Linked DNA regions of Homo sapiens. The protein of the gene in region 3 interacts with the protein of the main gene of each other region in a biochemical or structural test. Each region holds a gene or a part of one and is shown on either strand. Other genes may lie near its edges. The genes, in order: E2F3, E2F2 and ATAD2.

What was found.
Region 1: the proteins of ATAD2 (region 3) and E2F3 form a complex in vitro, tested with the Homo sapiens proteins (one study listed by BioGRID).
Region 2: the proteins of ATAD2 (region 3) and E2F2 form a complex in vitro, tested with the Homo sapiens proteins (one study listed by BioGRID).

What each region holds. Positions count from the first base shown.
Region 1 is NC_000006.12:20,481,834-20,488,997, forward strand, and holds part of E2F3 (transcription factor E2F3), read left to right. Parts: intron 1-928; coding exon 929-1,087; coding exon of another isoform or gene 1,088-1,116; intron 1,117-4,855; coding exon 4,856-4,970; intron 4,971-6,279; coding exon 6,280-6,415; intron 6,416-7,164.
Region 2 is NC_000001.11:23,521,177-23,528,340, reverse strand, and holds part of E2F2 (transcription factor E2F2), read left to right. Parts: exon of another isoform or gene 1-936; intron 937-1,270; exon of another isoform or gene 1,271-1,411; intron 1,412-3,562; exon of another isoform or gene 3,563-3,752; intron 3,753-3,852; coding exon 3,853-3,958; intron 3,959-6,284; coding exon 6,285-6,504; exon of another isoform or gene 6,505-6,755; coding exon of another isoform or gene 6,756-6,769; intron 6,770-7,164. UniProt on the Homo sapiens protein: Transcription activator that binds DNA cooperatively with DP proteins through the E2 recognition site, 5'-TTTC[CG]CGC-3' found in the promoter region of a number of genes whose products are involved in cell cycle regulation or in DNA replication.
Region 3 is NC_000008.11:123,393,441-123,400,889, forward strand, and holds the start of ATAD2 (ATPase family AAA domain-containing protein 2), read right to left. Parts: upstream 3,008-7,449; 5' UTR 2,918-3,007; coding exon 2,747-2,917; intron 1-2,746. UniProt on the Homo sapiens protein: May be a transcriptional coactivator of the nuclear receptor ESR1 required to induce the expression of a subset of estradiol target genes, such as CCND1, MYC and E2F1.

The DNA.
Region 1 (7,164 bases), on a different chromosome or scaffold from region 3:
TACGTACAACTGCATAGTTACAGAATATCTTTATCCATGGTTCTAATAGCAGATTAACTCACTTTCTGGGTAAATTAAGGCAAGACTTAAATGCCTCCATTTCGTCTGTAGAGCAGGGATGGTAGCATGATACTTATACAGCCACACGTATGATTACATATGTAATATATTTTGTGAATTTTAGAGCATCTAAATAGCCACTATAAGCACAGTATTGAATTATTAAAGCATTTTGGAAGGAATAATTCTGTTACAGGAGGGCTTTGAAAAGATACTAATTCAGATGGAAGATGAATACATACCTTTTTTTGCACATTTTGGAATTTTGTTGACAGTTTGGTAACCCGTTTTGGCCTCTGGTTTAGAGAAACATATTGTGCACTAGTCTCAGTTCTTGCATACATCACATACATCTGTTTCCTTTACTTTCTTTTCTTTTTAGTTGTTGATATAAGACCCTCAGTAATTACCTGAGTTTTTGATGCTTTTTTGGATGGGTTGTTTTTTTGTTTTTTTTTTTTTTTAATTTTGAACCATTCCATCTTCTCTGTCTTTCTCTATCTTTTTATCCTTTTTCGCCTTTCTTCCCCCACCACCTGGGAGCCATGAGGCAAGGGAGGAAGGTGGTTGCCTTCTTTTGCCCTCTGAATTTGAACCTTCTGAAGAAGTAGACCTCCCCTGGAGGAAAGAATCCTGAAAATAGCAGTGCGCTTTCACTAAATTTCTATGCTGTGAAAAGTGCAGAACTGTATTTATGAAAAAAAAAATATATATATATATATATATATGTGTAAATGTTCTAATTTTAACACTTGGCTAACAAGCAATGTGACCTCCTATGTCAAGAGGAGACATTTACCCAAAGGATCATTTCTCCTTCCCCTCCCTCCCATGAGTAGCCATGAAGAGTCTGTGTTTGGGTTTCTAGGGGCTGCAGTCTGTCTGAGGATGGGGGCATGCTGGCCCAGTGTCAAGGCCTGTCAAAAGAAGTGACCGAGCTCAGTCAGGAAGAGAAGAAATTAGATGAACTGATCCAAAGCTGCACCCTGGACCTCAAACTGTTAACCGAGGATTCAGAGAATCAAAGATATCCTTTGTGCCGCCAGTTCTCTGGGGGTTAGTGCTTCCTAGACTATTTCCAGAGTTGACAATCTGACTTATGCACAAGGTAGATTATTATTCTGATGTCATGCAAATGAGTACCTGTGTGCCTGTGTGTGTATGTGTGTGTGTGTGCACGTGTGTGTGTAAACCCAGTTAGCTTTGCCTAAAAAGTCAGTATTTATGGTAAGATAGTCACCAACTCGATCCTATTATTATCTATTTTGATACCAGGTGGGAACTGTTTTTTAAAGCATTTTTTCATGTGTGGTTGAGACATGGGTATACTCGTAGCGTAAGGCCACACTATTAAAAGATACATAAGGTGTCGGTATTAATATTAATGACAACACTAAGCAGATTCGTCTTTGGCTTCCCAGATTTTTGGTGGGTGTTAGCTGTCACTGTTGGGGTTCTCACATTCTATTTTCTTCTCACCAGATATCGTAGCAATTGAAATTGGTTGAATCTATCTGATTGGGCTATAGTTGAAGGGTTTGAAAGAGTAGAGAAAAATCATACTATAACTCTTAAAGTGCATTCTGCTGATTCCCAATGAAAAAACTGATTTCAAAAGCACCCCAAGACCTGAGAAACCCCTCTCAATTCCTCTGTTCCACTACAAACATTAGTCCTCGCAAATAAAAATACAAAAGGTCAGTTCTTGTTCTCAACTTCCTGACAATCTATTGACGATCTCAGGAAAACTTGCTCTTCATCATCTCACTACAGACAAAGTAAGAGAGAGATTGCCTCATTATGTCAAACAAGACTTGCCAATATTCTCAGTTATTAGAAGACAAAAAACAGTACTGTAAGTTATCCCATCTCTAGTTTTAGTTCCAAACTTCTGATGATTGCACATTTACCATTATTTGACAAAAACTAAAAAGTGTTCTGCCCAGATTCTTCTAGTGTCTCATCTTTAACAGGCTCCCCCTTGGAGAATATGGAGATATTTATTTTCTTCCAATGTTGGCAGTTTTTCAAACCTGCAATTGTTCATTTCCTGTTGACCAAAGAATTAACCTTGTCAGCCGATAATTAGTGAGATGGAAGAGAGGCGTAGTGATTTGGACCCCCAGTGGTTGGCAGAGTGGGTTTACAGGGGAAGAAACCAACAGTTGGGCTGTTTCATTCATTGTTTGGTTGGGAGCCCCATTGTGGAAGAGATGGGTGGTTACATGTGATTGGCAGCCTTCCGGGACATGTGGCTTATGGCATTGTCACCTATATTAGCTCTCTCTGGGGCCTTTGTTGCAGAAAATGAAAGCTTCCTTGCAGGGAACTTCGAACCCAAGGAGTAAATTCAGGAGGGAGCCACAAAGGAAGCACTTTTAAGTTTGTAAGATTAGAAAATACATTTGCACAATTTATTTCAGTTCACCATTCAGTTCCCAAATTGGTACAGCTTGTTCACAAATGTGTTGAAATTTTCCTTCCTGCAGCATGTTGAGTAATCGTAGATGAGTTTTTCTTTTACACTTGATCTTAGCCAAAAGGCCAAGAAGTGATGAGTTTTTATTTTAATAAGTTCTTGTCATACAGCTTTTTGACAGTGAGCTGTAGTGTAAGTACCTGGTTGTCAGTTTTTTCCAGTGTTCTCAGTAAAAAATCAGAACTGCCTGGCCCTCTATAAAGGCATCCGTTGACTTCTTTGATGGGTTATGTAGTGACCTAAAACCCAGAATCCTGCAAGAGCAGCCACTACAAGCTCAACACTGAATTAGCCATCATCTCAACTGTAAAGATTTGAAGGAGATAGTCTGTGATAGATCCCCTACATGTGTATGCAGATTTCGTGTGAATGTGCTTTCTTTCTGGAGTAGTAGTTCCATAGCTGCATTCAGTTTCTAATAAGAAGCTACTACAGCCAGGCACGGTGGCTCATGCCTGTAATCCCAGCTACTCGGGAGGCTGAGGCAGGAGAATCACTTGAACCTGGGAGACAGAGGTGGCAGTGAGCTGAAATCGTGCCACTGCACTCCAGCCTTAGTGACAGAGTGGGAGTCCGTCTCAAAAAAAAAAAAAAAAAGAAGCTACTATCGTAAGGGACATGATTTATTCTAGGGTCTCTAAGCCCCCCCTTTTTTTTATATTAAACATATTAGATCACGGACTCTATTAGCCATTAAATACGTTATACTACCTGCTGAAATGCCTTCATTGGTTTGTTACTTGCTGTTTTATCCTAGGAATTTTTTGTGGGTACATATAAAAAATAATAACGGGCTAAAGACATTGTACATTAATTGAATACTTTTGTCATATCGTAAGTACCATATTCTTTCATGATAGCCTTTTAGGCTTGGCTGTCAGGACATTTAAAAGAATGGTTCAGTGCTTAGAAAAAATGACCAAGGCCGGGCGCCGTGGCTCACACCTGTAATCCCAGCACTTTGGGAGGCCGGAGGCAGGCAGATCACTTGAGTCCAGGAGTTCAAGACCAGCCTGGGCAACAGGGTAAAACCCCATCTCTACTAAAAATAAAAAAAATTAGCCGGGTGTGGTGGTGCACGCCTGTAGTCCCATCTGTTTGGGAGGCTGAGGCACGAGAATCATTTAACCCCAGAGACGGAGGTTGCAGTGAGCTGAGATTGGGCCACTGAACTCCAGCCTGGGTGACAGAGCAAGATTCTGTCTCAAAAAGAAAAAGGAAATAACTACCAAGAGTACTGAGATATTATACTTTTCTCTTTTCCTAAATCAGTGTTTCTCAAATTCATTCAAGTCGCAGAGCACCTGGAAACTGCTTTCTTCCTCATGAACACTGAAATATTGATAGAGTTAATATAGTATCACGCAAAGCATAATTTTTCTAACAGAAATAATGACACTCTTTTCTGTAGGCAGTACATAATCACAACCAGCCCAGGTGCACTTAAGAAAACAAGCTGTCTGCCTGAGCAGTATTCTGAGTTCCTCCACTAATGTATTTGTTACTTATTTATTTACTTGGTGGCTGCTGACACTTGCTTGTAGATAGAAGTAACTGGAGTTTCAAAAAAATTATGGCTAATAGAGATTACATTTTTTTTTCCTGCAAATTGGAATCTGCCATCATTCAGTTTGAGTGACAGAACACTTTATTGGAGTTCATGGAATGCCTGTGCTGCAAAGGACCCTGGCTTCAAGATAAAATTTCTGACCACTTAGTTTTTTATTTTCTTATGATCATTTATTTTAACTGTTCTGTTTCTATGTTTAATATTTTAAATAGCCATAGTCTTTTTAGAAATGGGCGGGATAAAGCTATTCATTTCTTTAGTTGTTTAGAGTGTCAACCAGAAATGAAGATTCATGGGAGACCCTAAACATTTGCACATCCAGAAGGGGAGACATACACATACTTTTTTGAGAAGGAGTCTCGCTCTGTCGCCCAGGCTGGAGTGCAGTGGCGCGATCTCGTCTCACTGCAAGCTCCACCTCCCGGGTTCATGCCATTCTCCGGCCTCAGCCTCCCGAGTAGCTGGGACTACAGGCGCCCGCCACCACGCCTGGCTAACTTTTTGTATTTTTAGTAGAGACGGGGTTTCACCGTGTTAGCCAGGTTGGTCTCCATCTCCTGACCTCATGATCCACCCGCCTCGGCCTCCCAAAGTGCTGGGATTACAGGTGTGAGCCACCGCGCCCGGCCACATATGCATACTTCTAAGTCATAAAATACTTTAAAATATTCCATGCATCTATTTTGTCATTTTCATCATACTTATATCTGAGGTAATTAGATGGAAGATTCCTTGACACTCTTTACGTTAGCTTATGTTACATATCAAGATATTCGAAAAATTAGTGGCCTTAAAGACCAAACTGTTATAGTTGTGAAAGCCCCTCCAGAAACAAGACTTGAAGTGCCTGACTCAATAGAGGTAAGGAGACAGCGTCTTTGTTCATCTGCAAAGATCTTTGTGGAATGCCTGAAATTGAATGACTCATTGACTCATAGTTAAAGTCTGTCCCCCTCCTATGAACTTGATGGTTCTTTCCCATTTATTTTACTTAACCATACATTTGAAAACATTTCAATGGTTTGATGTTCATTGAGTATTCAAACAACCTAACTTTGACCTAGCAGGATGTTCAGTTCAAAGTGGTATATGATGCGCTGTCCCTCTCATACTTTCTCTTTTTCATAATTTGTCATCAACGGTTTTGATCAATTTGAATCACTTTGGAAAGTTTATATTGATTATCCTGTATATGGTCCCCACCACGAACAGATATATAAATGTTTTAAAGTCTCTCCCTAACTTATAACATTTTGAGAGATCACATGGGGCTTTGGGTTAGCTGATAGACTAGAATATTGCAAGAAAGTAGGGGGCATATTTTTGTAATTTTCAGATATACTTGGATAATAGAGGCCTAGACTACAACTATAACATAAAGAGTTGTAGTAAAAAGAAAATGCATAGGAGATAAAAAGAGAATGAAAGTTACACGCTTCCATCTAGGGTAGACTTCTTACCTTAAAAGATAATAATAGCTCTTTGACCTAGATGAAAAAGATTTTTAAATGTTGGTATGCTGCATTCTCTTAATAGATGCAGTTCCTAGCACTTAAGAATACTATTCATCAGTATACAGTTCAACATGAAAAAGTCCTACCATAAAGGAACAATAACATGGAGATACTGAATTTGGAACACTTAAAGGACCTTGTAATAATTTGCAGAAAAAGAATATATCCAAAGAACACAATTCACCTCACCCATTGTGCTATTTTCAGAATGACTCCCCTCTCCCCCAAGCCCCACTAAAATAGTTTTCTTTCTCTAGGGCAGGACTCAGCAAACTTTTTCATTGAAGTGCCAGGTAGATAGTAAATATTTTTGGCTTTGCGAGCCGTACAGCCTGTGTCTAGACTATTCAACTGTGCACCTCTGACATTGTGATACGAAAACAGCCAGAGGCAATAATAAACAATGGGAATGGATGTGACTCTCTTCCAATAAAACTTTATTTACAAAGCCACTTGGTGAACTGGATTTGGCCCTTAGGCTGTGGTTTGCTGACCCCTGCTCTAGAGGATGACAGTCTTTCATAGAGTTGGACTAGTAGGGAAAAAGCAAGTGAAAAACGAACATTGTTCTTACTTTCCATTTTTAGACAAGAATTACTATGGCTTTTATTTCTAAAAGAACTTCTGATTCGAACTTCTCCCACTTCTGTTCATAGAGCCTACAAATACATTTGGCAAGTACCCAAGGGCCCATTGAGGTTTACTTATGTCCAGAAGAGACTGAAACACACAGTCCAATGAAAACAAACAACCAAGACCACAATGGGAATATCCCTAAACCCGCTTCCAAAGGTAAAAACTCCACTTTTGTCTTTTAGAAACTATGTTAAAAATGAGGGTGACTAGAACCATCTGTATTGGAACCACAAGCCTAGGCAAGAAACACAAACTTCTATTGGTATTAGGTAACATGTTTTAAAAGACATTCTGACTGGTTTGCAGAAGAAAATAATGATTTGGGAAAAACGGCTCCTTCACCCACTTATGGAGTCGCTTCAGGCTTTTGCTATTGGCAGAGAATGTTTCCTTACAGCATTTTTGAAAACCAGCTAAAGTGAGGAGCAAAGCTGTGAACTGTCTTGTTGGATCATCAGAGACACTTGGCCACACACCTTTGAATCACACTGCAGAGCTCATCAGAGAGGGAAATGAAAAAGGTTTGAGGAGAAAAGCCTTTGTTGGAGAATTTTTGTCTTATTTTCCCCCCCAATGAGATGGGGAGAGGATATGGGAGGAGAACGCTAGGAAAGTAAGTCTTGCCGGGTGCGGTGGCTCACACCTGTAATCCCAGCACTTTGGGAGGCCGAGGCAGGCAGATCACGAGGTCAGGAGATCGAGACTGTCCTGGCCAACACAGTGAAACCCTGTCTCTACTAAAAATACAAAAATTAGCTGTGCGTGGTGGCACGTGCCTGTAATCCCTGCTACTCGGGAGGCTGAGGCAGGAGAATCACTTGAACCAGGGAGTCGGAGGTTGCAGTGAGCCGAGATCCGCCACTGCACTCCAGCCTGGTGACAGAGTGAGACTCCATCTCAAAAAA
Region 2 (7,164 bases), on a different chromosome or scaffold from region 3:
GGGCTGCAAAGTGCAGGGTGAGCAGGATTTGTTGTGGAGCTTCTGTTTAAAGGGACCTCAGGCACTGTCCAAGGATGGCAACCAAGTTCAATGGCAGAATGAAGGCCACAACCCAGATCTCCTGGCTCCCTGTCCAGAGCTCTTTCCAAGTCCTCTGAGGAAGGCTCAGGGAATGCCCCTTTATCGCATGCCTCCTCTGGCCAGGCGCATGGCATCATTCTCTTTCACGCCTGCAGGAAGCTCTGCCCAGGCTGGCTTGCAATAGCGCCATCTCTGCTCACTGCAAACTCCACCTCCCAGGTTCAAATGATTCTCCTGTCTCAGCCTCCCAAGTAGCTGGGATTACTTTTTGTATTTTTAGTAGAGATGGGGTTTCACCATGTTGGCCAGGCTAGCTTCGAACTCCTGACCTCAGGTGATCCACCCGCCTTGGCCTCCCAAAGTGCTGGGATTACAAGCGTGAGCCACCACGCCCGGTCCTCCTTTTCTTTCAATTTGTCTACATTTTCCAGATTTCCTCTTGTGAGGCATGAAAGAAAATAAACATTTTAACACACAACTCTACAAGGCAGGTCAGGTGAGGAGGTGTAGGCTCAGAGAGGCAAGACAGTGAATCCCAGGCTGTTCAGCTACGAAGTGGCAGAGCTGGGATCTGAAAGCAAGGTTCGACCCCTTACATTTGCTCCTACCCCCACCATCTGACTTAGGGCTTAGGAGAGACCAGGCTCCACTCTGCGTGACCTTGGGCAAGTCAATTCCTCTTCCCCAAGTCCCAGTTTCCTCACCGTGGTGCCCGTAAGGGGGTTGTGCCTGGTGATCTCTGACCCTCTGCACTTCTGCAGCTGCCTGAGGAAGGAGCTGTACTCTTCTCCATAGGGGTTGGCAGGGTGGGCTTGCGTCCTGACCAGGCCTTGAAGATCCAGCCAAAGGGGCTGCCTAAGAGCGTCCAGGATAGGGCTAAGCTGGCCTCTGGCTGTGGCCATAGCCTTTGCTCTCCTCCCCTCATCGCAGTCTCTTTTCAGCTCACCCTTGAACTTTCCCCTTTTCCCACTGGTGCTCCCCATACATCAGTGCTAGCAGCTCCCTGGTGGGGGCACTCCCTATGGGCAAAGCGCTTTGCTGCACTATCTCACTGAATCCTCAGCATAGGTGGAGACAATGATGCCCATTTTATAGGTGACTTGACGTCAACTGATTTCCCAGCTAAGAAGGGGAAGGCCTAGATGCAAAGCCAGGCCAGTCTGACTCCAAGACCTGTGCTCAGCCTCACCTTGATGCTGATCCTCCTGGGCTTGTCCTCTGCCACCTGTGTTCTGCAGGTTCAGCCCAAGCCATAGGCTGACTTTCCTCTGGGCACTGTCCAAAGGTGTCAGGGAGGTATCCTTAGGGGGACACTTGCCGCATTGGGACCCTGGGAGTGCAGAATAAGGGTGAAGGAGAGTGAGAAAAGAGAGAAGGCTGTGTGTGTGTGTGTGTGTGTGTGTGTGTGCAAGTACATGCAGTGATGGGGGCAGGTGGGCGTAGCCCAGGCCTTGGCCCAAATTCTAGCAAATCCTGGGGCAGCGTGTGTGGGATGCAGCTGAGGCAGCCTGGTACATGGCTTTGCAGTCAGACAGGCCTGGGTTCAAACCCTGGCTCCGGCCTTTGTGTGACCTTGGGCATGTGCTTACTCTCTGTAAGTCTCCATTTTTTGGCTTCCGAGAGCCAGTGCCAATACTGATGTGGTAGGACTGTTACGAGCATGTAACAGGCTCAGCATAGATATTCTGTTCAAGGTCTTCCTGGGATTCTTTCTGGTTTGTTCTGGCGGGGGAGACAGGTGTGGCTGGGGAGGCTCTGGGCTGCCCCACCTCTGCCTCAGGTAGAACTCCACCTGAGCTTCCCTTCCTCTCCCTGCCCTTGGTGCTCCTGCTGGGGGATATATGAAGAATACTAGGATGTGCAGCCTTGGTCAGGATTGATGGAGGCCTCGGAGCTCCCCAAGCCTCAATTACTTCAGCTGTACAATGGGGATTAGTGGTATGGGAAGATTCAGTGAAGTGATGAATGTTGGGGCGTGGTTCAGGGCATGTGGAAGGTCTCAGCCAGTGACTGGCCCTTTCTCTAGTGACAGCATGGGGCTAAATCTCTAGAATATAGGATTTCACCAGTTAGGAAGGTAGAAAAGGAATATTCAAGAGACTCATTCAAGAATGAGCAGTAAAGTGTTTGGATGGTTTCCAGGTCTCGGTAGTGGTGGAAAGCAAGAGTGTTATATCCAGGCTCCTCAAACCAAGGAGCAGGGCTCCTCACATCAGCCCAGGAAGACTTCCTGGAGGGGGCAGGAGTGGGGGAAGGGGAACTGACAGCAGGAAGAGCTGTCACCACCTCCAACACCTGTCAGCCCAGCTGTGCTCAGCAGCAGTTAGAAGTCTCAGCCCTGCTGAGCATGACCTCACCACTAAATGTTAAAATAGGCCTCTCTGTCCAAGCCAGGGTAGGGGTGTCTGGGGGATCCAGAGTTGGAAAGAGGAAAGAAATGGGCTCGATGACCCCCAGAAGGATGTATGAAGGAAGAGGTCGAGATTAGATTTTAGGGAAGGGACTCTGTGTTTCCTGAACACCTACTGTGTGCTGAGACACAGGCTGAGAACTTTACAGAAGTTAAAGGAGCAGGAGCTAACCAGGGTCTTTCTCCCACATGCAGACAGGGAGCTAAATAAGTGCTTCAAAGGGAAGCCACGCGGGGATTAATTCAGCCTGTTCCAGGGTTTTTAAGATGCAGAGGCTGCCCAGGTAGTGCCTTCCTTGAATCCTTACAATAGCCCCTTGAGGTAGGCATTTTTACCCCATTTACAGAGGAAGAAACTGAGGCTCCTTAGATGTGTAACATTTCCCCCAACTTGTACCGTGAGCCTGCGAAGGAGCTGGAGATTCAAGCATGGGTCTCTGACCTATGTCCCAGTGTCCCAGTGCCCCAGCTCTGCCCCTGCCCTGCCCCTGCCCAGCCCTAACCAGGAGAGAGGCCCTTTCCGGGCCAGTGCAGCTCTGGGCCTAATTGGGGCCCGGGTGGCAACAGGGTGGAGAGGAGCAGATGGGTCTGTGGTTTGATTTCCCCAGCAGGTGTTTCCCAAGCTTGGCGGGAACAGAAAGGGGGAGCTGGAGGGGGGGGGTGGCCTCAGCTGCTTGTCCTTAAGACACGGGAAGGATTCATTGTCTGCCCCTCTCGGCAAAGAAAGAATGGCAAATGCAGTCTATTCAGGAGGCCCTGGGGCCCTCAAGCTGGAGCCCAAACATGGGGGTGGGGATGTTTGCACTGCTTCCCACTGTGGGCACCTCCCTGGGTTGTGGCACTGAGCCAGGAAGTCCCCTGGGTCTGGGCGGATGCCCAGCCCCGCCCTGATAAGGACCAGCTGTGGGACTGTGATGGGCACTCAGTCTAGCTGGGCCAGCTGCTTCTGTAGGGGGGCCCTTTCCCCACCCTGATGTGGTTTAGGCCCCACCCACTGCTTCCTCCTGGTATCATCCTCTGGGTGTGGTGGGGTGAGGAGCAGGTATAGGAGCCGGCTTAGGGCCCGTGGTTAAGGAGCTCTGAGCCCTTGGCCAGACTGGCTTTGGTAGGGTCTCAAGTGCCTGGGCCTCAGAGGATGGGAGTTTTATTTGCCCTTCAGAAAACAAGATTTCCCCTGAAAGCTCACTTCTCAGGTCACTGATGTTTTCCTATCAAGTACAGCAGTGCTTCACCAGGACTGGCGGTAAACTGAGGCACAGAGGTGGCTGCTAAGTGGCTTCATTGCTTTGGCCCCACATCAGGGAAAGGCTAAAGGAGGAATGATTCTCAAACTCTGCCTCTCTCTCCCCCTTTTCTCCAAGGCCAAAAGGAAGCTGGATCTGGAGGGGATTGGGAGGCCCGTCGTCCCTGAGTTCCCAACCCCCAAGGGGAAGTGCATCAGAGTGGATGGCCTCCCCAGCCCCAAAAGTAAGCAGTGCTGATGGGGCCTCTGGGGTGGGGTGGGGCAGGGGCAGAGGGCAGTGCCCTGCCCAATCACTGGTAGTCATATTTGGATCACTTTCCAGTTTACAAAAGCTTCCTGCGTATTTTATTATTTGATCCTGCCAGGTAGGTAGGCTTGTCTGTCTTTACTAATCAGGCAACTTGAGACTCAGAGAGCTTGAGTGACTTGCCCATAGTCTCAGAGTGGAGTCAGGACTAGAGCCTGGACATGTAAATCTTGCATTACTTCTGTGTTTTTTTTTGTTGTTGTTGTTGTTGTTGTTGTTGTTGTTGTGAGACAGGTCTCGCTCTGTCACCAAATGTGGATTGCAGTGGTGCCATCTTGGCTCCCTGCAACCTCCACCTCTGGGGTTCAAGCAACTCTCTCACCTCAGCCTCCCAGGTAGCTGGGACTACAGGTACATGCCACCATCCCTGCCTAATTTTTGTATTTTTAGTAGAGACACAGTTTCACCATGTTGGCCAGGCTGGTCTTAAACTCCTGACCTCAAATGATCCACCCGCCTCGGCCTCCCAAAGTGGTGGGATTACAGGCGTGAGCCACCATGCCTGGCCAGTCTCGCACTACTTCTACCATACCATGTACTGCTCTCATGATCTAAACTCAATGACCAGTGTTTTATTTGGGAATTTATTATTTTTAAAACGTTTTAATGTTTAGGTCAAGGTAAATTTTTCTAAATCAGAAGAGCAGGGGCTAACCAGGGTCTTTCTCCCACATGCAGACAAGGAGCTGAATAAGTGATTCAAAGGGAAGGGAAGCACAGATTAATCCAGTCTCTGCCACCCCAAAGGTTTTTAAGATCCAGAGGCTGCCCAGGTGGTGCCTTCCTAAAGCTAAGTTGGAGGGGGTTGCTGCCTCTTGATATTTTCAGTCAATATCCTGGATAGGCTGAGCGTGGTGGCTCACACCTATAATCCCAGCACTTTGGGAGGCCAAGGTGGGCAGATAACCTGAGGTCAGGAGTTCCAGACCAGCCTGGCCAACGTGGTGAAACCCCGTCTATACTAAAAATACAAAAATTAGCCGGGTGTGGTGGCGCATGCCTGTAATCCCAGCTACTCAGGAGGCCAAGGCAGGAGAATCACTTGAACCTGGGAGGCAGGTTGCAGTGAGCCAAGATCGCACCACTGCACTCCACTCCAGCCTGGGAGAGAGAGTGAGACTCCATCTCCAAAAAAAAAAAAAAATCCTGGTTAGAGCAGGAGTTAAAGCAACTGTGTTTGGGAGGAACACTAGTTTTGGGGGTCCAGGTAGGATTCTGCTCCGACCTGACAGGTCACTCCTGTGAACCTTAGTTGTTGTGAACCTTAGTTGTCTTGTGTAAAAGAAGACACAGCTAGATCAGGAATGGCAAGAAAGTTTCCTCTACATTTGATTGGTCAAGGCTGCCCAGAGCACTGTCTTGAAGGATCCTGAGGCTCATGATAACTGGTCCTCCTCCAGAGGAACCTAAGACTCTAAAATTCAGGTTCCAGAATTACTGGATTGGCCACTAACTTGCTATATGACTTGGAAGTCACTCGATTACAAAAGTCCCCTCGTGGTTTAAGATGCTGCAGCTGAGATGTGGTCTTGCAACATCAACCTCATTGAGAAAGGGACCTTTCTCATGAACCTCCCCGACTTGATGTTACAGGACCGATTTTTCTCAGATAATCATTGTGATTCACATGGGAAGAAAAAGCAAGTGTGTGTCTATAAAAATGCTCTTAAATCCAGGCTTATCATTTCTACCCTATTCTAATTCCAAACTCCGGACATTTAAGTGGCAGGATAGGGTAATGGTTAAGGAAAACTCTGGAGTCAGACTGCCTGGATTTGAATTCCAGCTTTGCCACTTTCTAGCTGAGTGAGCTGAGCAAATTACTTAAACTGTGCCTCAGTATTCTCATCTATAAAATGGGGATGATTGTACAGCAACCCTTACAGGGTGTTGTAGGGCTTAAATGTGTTCGTACATGGAAAGCACTTAGAACAGTGACAGTAGTTGTGGGTGGTGGTCTGGCAGCCCTAAGCTGTGGTGGAAATGTGCATTTAACCAGGAGTCAGGACACTAGGCTTCCAACACTGCCCATTGGCCGTGAGACCTTAAGCAAGTCACCTTCCCTCTTAGGTATCAGGTTCCCTGTCTGGACAGTGGTGGTGATGGATGCCCTGGCTCACACTGCTTTGTAAACTGGAAAGTGGGTGGTGAAAGGTGGTACTTAATGAGCCTAGGTCAATGGACGAGGGTCCTGGGCGGGCCCTCCCCTCCCTGAGCTGTGACTGGGTCCCTTTCTTCTTCAGCCCCCAAATCCCCCGGGGAGAAGACTCGGTATGACACTTCGCTGGGGCTGCTCACCAAGAAGTTCATTTACCTCCTGAGCGAGTCAGAGGATGGGGTCCTGGACCTGAACTGGGCCGCTGAGGTGCTGGACGTGCAGAAGCGGCGCATCTATGACATCACCAACGTGCTGGAAGGCATCCAGCTCATCCGCAAGAAGGCCAAGAACAACATCCAGTGGGTGTGAGTGCCTGGGCGGCCAGTGGTACCCTCCAATGGGTACTTGTGCTGTGGGCGGAGCCAGAGGCAATAGCCAGTGGGTGTGAGTGGCAGGGGCGGGGCTGAGAGCAACATCCAATGGGCACAAGGGCTGAGGCGGACCAAGAGCAACATCCAATAGGCTTATTGCTGGGGGTAGAGCCAATGTATGGTGAGGAAGAGCGCCGTGTACCTGCTGAAGTAATCGGAGAACGTGATGCGGGGCAGAGTGGAGAATGACATCTGGGAGGTGTAAAGGCCAAAGGGAACCTCAGATTCTTCCTCTTGAGTCAGAGATCCCAATATCCACTTCTTCTAGCTTAGGGCAGTCCCCTGGGAGCTAAGTAGGGGGATCCCGGACTCCTTCCAGATCTGAGATAGGAGTACTCCAGCCTCCTCTCTCCATTTCTACAGGGTTTAAAGAGCTGACCTATAGCCCTTGGCATAAATCCTAAGAGAAACCAGGCAGGGGAGGGAGTCAGGACTGAGGCTACTCCAGTTGGAGGAGGCTGGGGCATAGGGATGAACAGAGTCGAGAGCCCCTCAGAAATGGGGTTCAGGTCTTGACTTGTTTTTTCTCCCAAGCCCAACCCCCAAACCTCTGGTTCCAATCCCTGGTAGCTCCCTGAGAGACAGGCATGACCA
Region 3 (7,449 bases):
TTGAGGCTGCAGTGAGCCACGTTGGTGCCACTGCACTCTAACCTGGGTGACAGAGCAAGACTCTGTCTCAAAAATAAATAAATGCATAAATAAAGAGAACTGACTGTTGAGGGAAGGTGGGGCATAATATATATATCAAACAGTGGAAAACGGGAAGGAGGCCAATCAAGAATCTATTATAATCCAGGAAAGATGGTCAGGCGCGGTGGTTCATGCCTGTAATCCCAGCACTTCGGGAGGCTGAGGTGGGCCGATCACCTGAGACCGGGAGTTTGAGATCAGACTGGCCAAAACAGTGAAACACCGTCTCCACCAAAAACACAAAAATTAGGTAGGCGTGGTGGCGCATGCCTGTAATCCCAGCTACTTGGAAGGCTGAGGCAGGAGAGTCACTTGAACCCGGGAGGCGGAAACTGCAGCAAGCCGAGATCACGTCACTGCACTCCAGCCTGGGTGACAGAGCAAGATTCTGTCTCAAAATAATAAATAAATAAATAATCCAGGAAAGAGATTATGGCTTGAACCAGCATGGCAACACTGGAGGACATATAAAGTGGTCAGACTTGGAATATATTTTGAAAGTGGAGCCAACAGAATTTGCTAATGCACTGGATGTGAGGAGTCAACAACAACCTAAGGTTTTTTTTCCTGAGGAACTGAAAAAAAAAAACGGAGTGGCCATTAACTAAAACTGACGATGGTCTTAATAGCTGACAATGACTGAATCCTAACCATATGCTAACTGTTCAATTAATCTCCTTACATACATGATCACATTTAATCCTCACTACCAATGTGGTGGGTATCATCCCATTTAACAAGTGTAGAAACCTGATGATTATTGGTAAACCTGAGAAGCTGAAACTGAAATTCATAATTAACAGTTTTCTTAAGAGTCTATGTATTTGGCCAAGCAGGGTGGCTCAATTCTGTAATCCCAGCATTTTGGGAGGCTGAGGCAAGTGGATCACCTGAGGTCGGAGTTCGAGACCAGCCTGGCCAACATACAGAAACCCTGTCTCTACTAAAAATACAAAAATTAGCCCAGCGTGGTGGTGTATGTCTGTAATCCCAGCTACTTGGGAGGCTGAGGCAGGAGAACTGCTTGAACCCGGGAGGTGGAGGTTGAGGTTGCGGTGAGCCGAGATCACACCAGTGCACTCCAGCCTGGATGAGAGAGTGAGACTCTGTCTCGAAGAAAAAAAAAAGAGCCTATGTATTTAACCAGTATTCAATATATCAGTACGTATCATTATGTTCACAGGATCTAGTGTTACCCTGGACATAAATAATCAATCAGTATTGAAACACATTTTCTGAACACAGGTTAAGTCAAGTAACCAATTCCAGTGCAGAAGTGTTTGGCCTCTCCAGGTCTCTGCCAATTCCTGGCAGATGACTGAGAAACAAATCTTTAAAGTCAGGAAATTACTTGTCTTTTCAATTCAGAATCACAATTTCAGAGACTGAAGGGAGTGTAGTTTTTAACCCATTCCCCTCAGTAGAGTAGCAACCAGAATGGGATGCCCACAAAAGATACTGGCAACTAATTTTATATAGTTATCTAAATACAAGATCTTAATAGAAGACTTAATACAAGACCCTGAAATCGTCTGCTGAACTGAAGAGGATTACATTGTCACTTCCACCACACATTTCCCCTGAGCCTCTCATTCTCATTCCCAAGTTCCCAACCTTCTCTCAGGTCCTATTTTTCCTACTCCATGCCTACCCTCACTCACTCCAACACCTTCAGTCCAGCTATATATTACTTGCTGCCTTAACTAAATTTACTAGCGAGCTTCCCCGACTTCTTCAACCTTCTGTGAATGCTGAAACCCCTCCACCTAGGCCTCTTTCAGCAGCTGGGGTGGGGAGGTGGATGGGAGGGGAGTAACTGCTCAGCTTTAACTCTGCCCTGCAAAAACCGTCACTGCACTTCAGACCTAGAAGCAGCACTTCTTTCAAGAGGACCCTCCTTCCTTCCAAACTTCCCCTATAGACACTGCTTGTAACTGCAGCATGACGGCATAGAAAGGGAACGATTTAGGAGGCAGGCAATCTGAGTTCCAATTTTAGATCTACCCCTTACTGTTTACCTTTTTGAATCCGTTTCTTCATCTGTCAAAGAGATAGCACAACTACGCATTCTCAAAGGGTTATGACGAGGCTTGGAAGCGGGGGGCGTACATGAAATGTTGGTCTTCATCCCTCCACATTATGCAACCTGGTATTATTCACTGCGCTGTTATTACGGAACTCCTCTGGATCGTTAATGGAGGTCAGAGAACCTGAATTACAACCTGTCTGTCCCTGTGCCCCCTCCCCCCCAACGTTTATGGCGCAGACAGAAAGCAGTCAGGGGATGCGTGTTGCCTCCAGGTTGATGCGAACCTAGGGCAGGAGCCTGGGCGATCGATCGGCCAGGGAGTGGGGGGTCGTGCGGGCGGCCGAACAGCCGCGGCTTGGCCCCAGACCGCACTCCGCTGTGGCGGGCTTCGATTTCCTCTTGCGTAAAAGTAGGTGGTGACCAAATGCTTAGTCCTCTCCCGGCCAGCCTCAGCTCAGCGATCCGACCCGCACCTCCGATCCCGAGAGCTTCCATTTTACTCGTCCTCGACCACACTTCTCCCCCGACAACTGTCACCCTGACCGGCGCCGCCCACCCCCAGGCCCCTCCGAGCGCCGGGCTGCCGGCAGTCCCCCCGGGAACCGCCCTGGGAGCCCGCCTCAGGCCCGTACTCACGCCCGCTTTGGCTGTGGTCGCCGCGGGTTTCTTCTGCGCCGCGCCGGCCGAGCGGAGCCGCCTCCGGCCGATGTGCTCCAGACTGAGGAAGTCACTGGACAGGTCCAAGGAGCCCGTGGCCGAGGCCGCGGAGTGGTTGTGCAGCTCCAAGCTGCTGCGGAGAACCACCATCTTCTCTCCCTACTGGCCTCGGCGTGCGCGACCGGAGAGAGATCCAGCTCCAGGCGCTCGCAGCTCTGGCTCTTCCGCGCTCCGAATTCTGGCGCCACAAGCTCCGCGCCAGCGGCCGCAGCGCGCGCGCCCAGAATCCCTCCGCCGTCTGTCCCGCCCACGCCACCACCGTAGAACAGCAGGCTCGAAACTCTCCTCCCATTTGTAGAGCGAAGGAGGCCGGGCCAACGTGGAGAGGAACACAGGCCGACAGTATAGAGGACCTGAGCGGAGAGTCCTGGGGAAAACGCTGACTTCTTTTTCTTCACATAGTTCCGGCTCGCTGAGCTCGGCGGAAGGAGACGGTGGGAGCGGTGCGTAGCCCGTTTGGAATTTTGGCGCGGGACGGCGGCGGGGGAAGGGAGGCCTCTGCGCGCTCTGATTGGCTGGTGGGGTCCGGCGTCTCCTCCCCACCCCTGTTGACACCTGCTTGCTGCTTCCCGCCATCCAGGATTCAAATGCAAAATGCCCAGTCCTTGACTGGAGGGAAATAAAGCACTTGGCCTTTGACAGGTTTTGACTTTGAGCCTTAAGAACTTTTTTTTTTTTTAAATAATTGAGGGCTTGACGAAAACAAGTTAACCACCAAAAAGAAAGAAAACACAAGGAGCTAAAAGCGAGCCAGCAGAGTGCCATCGTTTAGTTAAGGACGCGGGTTCTGTACCCATCTTTGCCATTGATCATCCCACATAGAAGATCTCGAACAAATTATTCACCTCCCTGCATTCTAATTTCCTCACACGCTGAGGCAGGAGAATCGCTTGAAGCCGGGAGGCACAGGTTGCAGTGAGCCAAGATCGTGCCACTGCACTCCAGCCTGGGCAACAGAGCAAGACTCTGTCTCAAAAAAAAAAAAAAAAAAAAAAAAGAACCTGTTTCAAAAAAAAGAGCAGGACTCCCAGTTAAATGTGAAGTTCAGATAAAGAACAAATACTTTTTATACGTATCTCGGAATGTACATATAATCGGAAAGTAACTCCGATTGTAATACCTAAGGCCCTAAAGTACTATTATGATACCTTGGAGCCGTGCTTGCACATAATAAGTGCTCAATAAGCGTTCGCTATTATCACAGAATACAAGAAGATGGCTTCTCTAAGATGGCAGTTACTTGACTACTTTGAAATAGGTAACACGCTGAATGATCAGAATGTCCGAGGGCTCTTAGCGAAATAAACGAAAGCTATTTATTGATTTGGATAACTACAGTTCATTAATTTAATATTTGTTAAATACATATTGAGCCTCTATTATGTACCAGGCATTATTCTAAGCACTGGGGATGCAGCAGTGAATAAAAAGAACAAAAATGCCCTAATGGAACTTAAACTCTAGTGGAAGGTGAAAGACAATAAACTAAATGTAAAAGTTTTAAAGTGGCAAGCATTACAGAGAAATATAAAGTAGGGAAGGGGGAGGGAAGAGTGCAATTTAAAATAGGGTGATTAGGGAAGGTCTGGCTGAGAAGTCTGACAAAGGCCTAAAGGTTAGATGGTTCTGGAAGAAGAGAGAGGCGGGAAGCAGGAAGGGGAGAGTGGCGAGGCCAATGAGAACAGAGCCACTGGGAGCAGGTCCTACGGGACTCTGGGTCTTAGTTTGAAACTTTTGAGGGCTTTTATTATAGCCCCCAAATTCCCATCCAAACCCTGAGATGAAAAGACATCTCAGGGTTTTGAACAGAGGTTTGACTTATTCCGACTTTAAAAATAATCTGCGTGGCTGCTGAATGAAGAATGCAATGTCTGGGGACATATAAAAAGTATTTGTTGTTTATCTGAACTTCGCATTTAACTGGGAGTCCTGCTTTTTTTTTGAGAGAGGTTCTTGTTCTTTTTTTTTTTTTTTTTTTTTTGAGACAGAATCTTGCTCTGTTGCCCAGGCTGGAGTGCAGTGGCATGATCTCAGCTAACTGCAACCTCTGCCTCCCGGGTTCAAGCGATTGTCCTGCCTAAGCCTCCAGAGTAGCTGGTATTACAGGCGTGCACCACCATGCCCAGCTAATTTTTGTATTTTTAGTAGAGATGGGGTCTTACCATGCTGGCCAGGCTGGTCTCGAACTACTGACCTCAGGTGATCCACCTGCCTTGGCCTCCCAAAGTTCTAGGATTACAGGCGTGAGCTACCGTCCCCAGGAAGACAGATTATTGTTCTGTCACCCAGGCTGGAGTGCAGTGGCGCAGCCACGGTTCACTGCAGCTTTGACCTCCAGGGCTCAAGCAATCCTTCCACCTCAGCCTCCCTAGTAGCTGGGACCACAGGTGTGTGCCATCACACCTGGCTAATTTGTTTTTAGAGACGGGGTCTCACTCTGTTGCCCAGGCTGGTCTCAAACTCCTGGCCTCAAGCAATCCTCCCACCACAGCCTCCCAAAGCCTGGGATTACAGGTGTGAGCCACCATGCCCAAACAATTTTTCTGATTTTTCTTGCATGAATATGCTTCACTTTTACAATAGAAAAAAACTTTAAAATAATTGTTTAACCAACATAGGTGAAAAAGAAAGGAACAATATTTAAAGTAGTACAGTTTAAAAAATTTAAAAAGTAGCAGAGTTTACTATTACTTGGTTTTAAAATACTATTTATGGCTGGGCACGGTGGCTCACGCCTGTAATCCCCCCACTTTGGGAGGCCGAGGTGGGCAGATCACGAGGTCAAGAGATTGAGACCATCTTGGTCAACATGGTGAAACCCCGTCTCTACTGAAAATACAAAAAATTAGCTGGGCGTGGTGGTGCACGCCTGTAGCCCCAGCTACTCAGGAGGCTGAGGCAGGGGGATTGCTTGAACCTGGGAGGCAGAGGTTGCAGTGAGCCGAGATGGCACCACTGCACTCCAACCTGGCGACACAGCAAGACTCCGTCTCAAAAAAAAAAAAAACCACACGACTATATACTGTATATACCATCTCATTTGATTTGTTTATTCAGGAAATTTTAATTGAGCCCCCATCTTATTCTAAGCATAGTTAGAGGTGCAGGGAGTAAAGCAGTGAACCAGGAACCCTAGGTTCATGGAGCTTACATTCTAAGAGGTACTCAGTGGATAAACAAGGAAGTAAATAAACAAGGTAACTTCATTATAGCAAGTGGTATAAAGAAAATGAAACAGGGTCATGTGATACAGAGTGGTTGAAGGAAGAGGAGAGAAACATACAGTGGACTTGAAAGGTCAATCTGAGGCCAGGCGGGGCGGCTCACACCTGTAATCCCAGCACTTTGGGAGGCCGAGGTGGGTATCACCTGAGGTCGGGAGTTCTAGAGCAGCCTGACCAACATGGAGAAACCCCATCTCTACCAAAAATACAAAATTAGCTGGGCATGGTGGCGGGCACCTGTAATCCCAGCTACTCAGGAGGCTGAGGCAGAAGAATTTCTTGAACCTGGGAGGCAGAGGTTGCGGTGAGCCGAGATTACGCCATTGCACTCCAGCTTGGGCAACAAGAGCGAAACTCCATCTCAAAAAAAGAAGGAAAGAAAGAAAGGTCTGAGGCCAGGCATGTGTCACACCTGTAATCCCAGCACTTTGGGAGGGCGAGGCAGGCAGATTGCTTGAGGTCAGGAGTTCGAGACTAGCCTGGCCAACATGGCAAAACCTTGTCTCTACTAGAAATACAAAAATTAGCCAGGCATGGTGGCACACACTTGTAATCCCAGCTACTTGGGAGGCTGAGGCAGGAGAACTGCTTGAACCCGTGAGGCAGAGGTTGCAGTGAGCCAAGATCATGCCACTGCACTCCAGCCTTGGCGACAGAGTGGGACTCCAGCTCAAAAATAAATAAATAAAAAAGAAAGATCAGTCTGAGGAGGCGACATTTTAGATGACACGTAAAATATGAGAAGGAATCAGCCGATCAAAAAATTGGCAGGGTTTTCCAGAGAATGGGAAGAACAAGTGCAAAGGCCCTGAGGTAGGAAGTCCAAAATAGTTGAAAATGCTTCCAGAACTTCAAAGATAGAATTCCCCAGGGAGCTTATTAAACACACTACACAAAGCCAGGTGTGGTGGTGCGGGCCTGTAGTACCAGCTACTTGGGAGGCTGAGGTGGGAGGATCGCTTGAGCCCAGCAGTTCCAAACCATTCGGGGGAACATAGTGAGACCCAGTCTCAAAAAAATAGCCTGCCCTGGCAGGCTGGCAGCCGAGCGGGTGTTTATGTTGGGTCGCCGGGTCTCTGGCAGCCTGACAGACTACCTGATGAGCCAGGGCACCGGCTGCGTGCCCGAGGACGGGCTCACCACGCAGCAGCTCTTCGCCAGAGCCGACAGCCTCACCTACAACGAGTTCCTGATTCTCCCAGGATTCATAGACTTCATAGCTGATGAGGCGGACCTCACCTCAGCCCTTACCTGGAAGATCACGCTGAAGACGCCGCTGATCTCCTCCTCCATGGACACTGTGACAGAGGGCAACATGGCCATCACGATGGCTCTGGTGGGAGGTATTGGTTTCATTCACCACAACTGCACCCCAGAGTTCCAGGCCAAGGAGGTGCG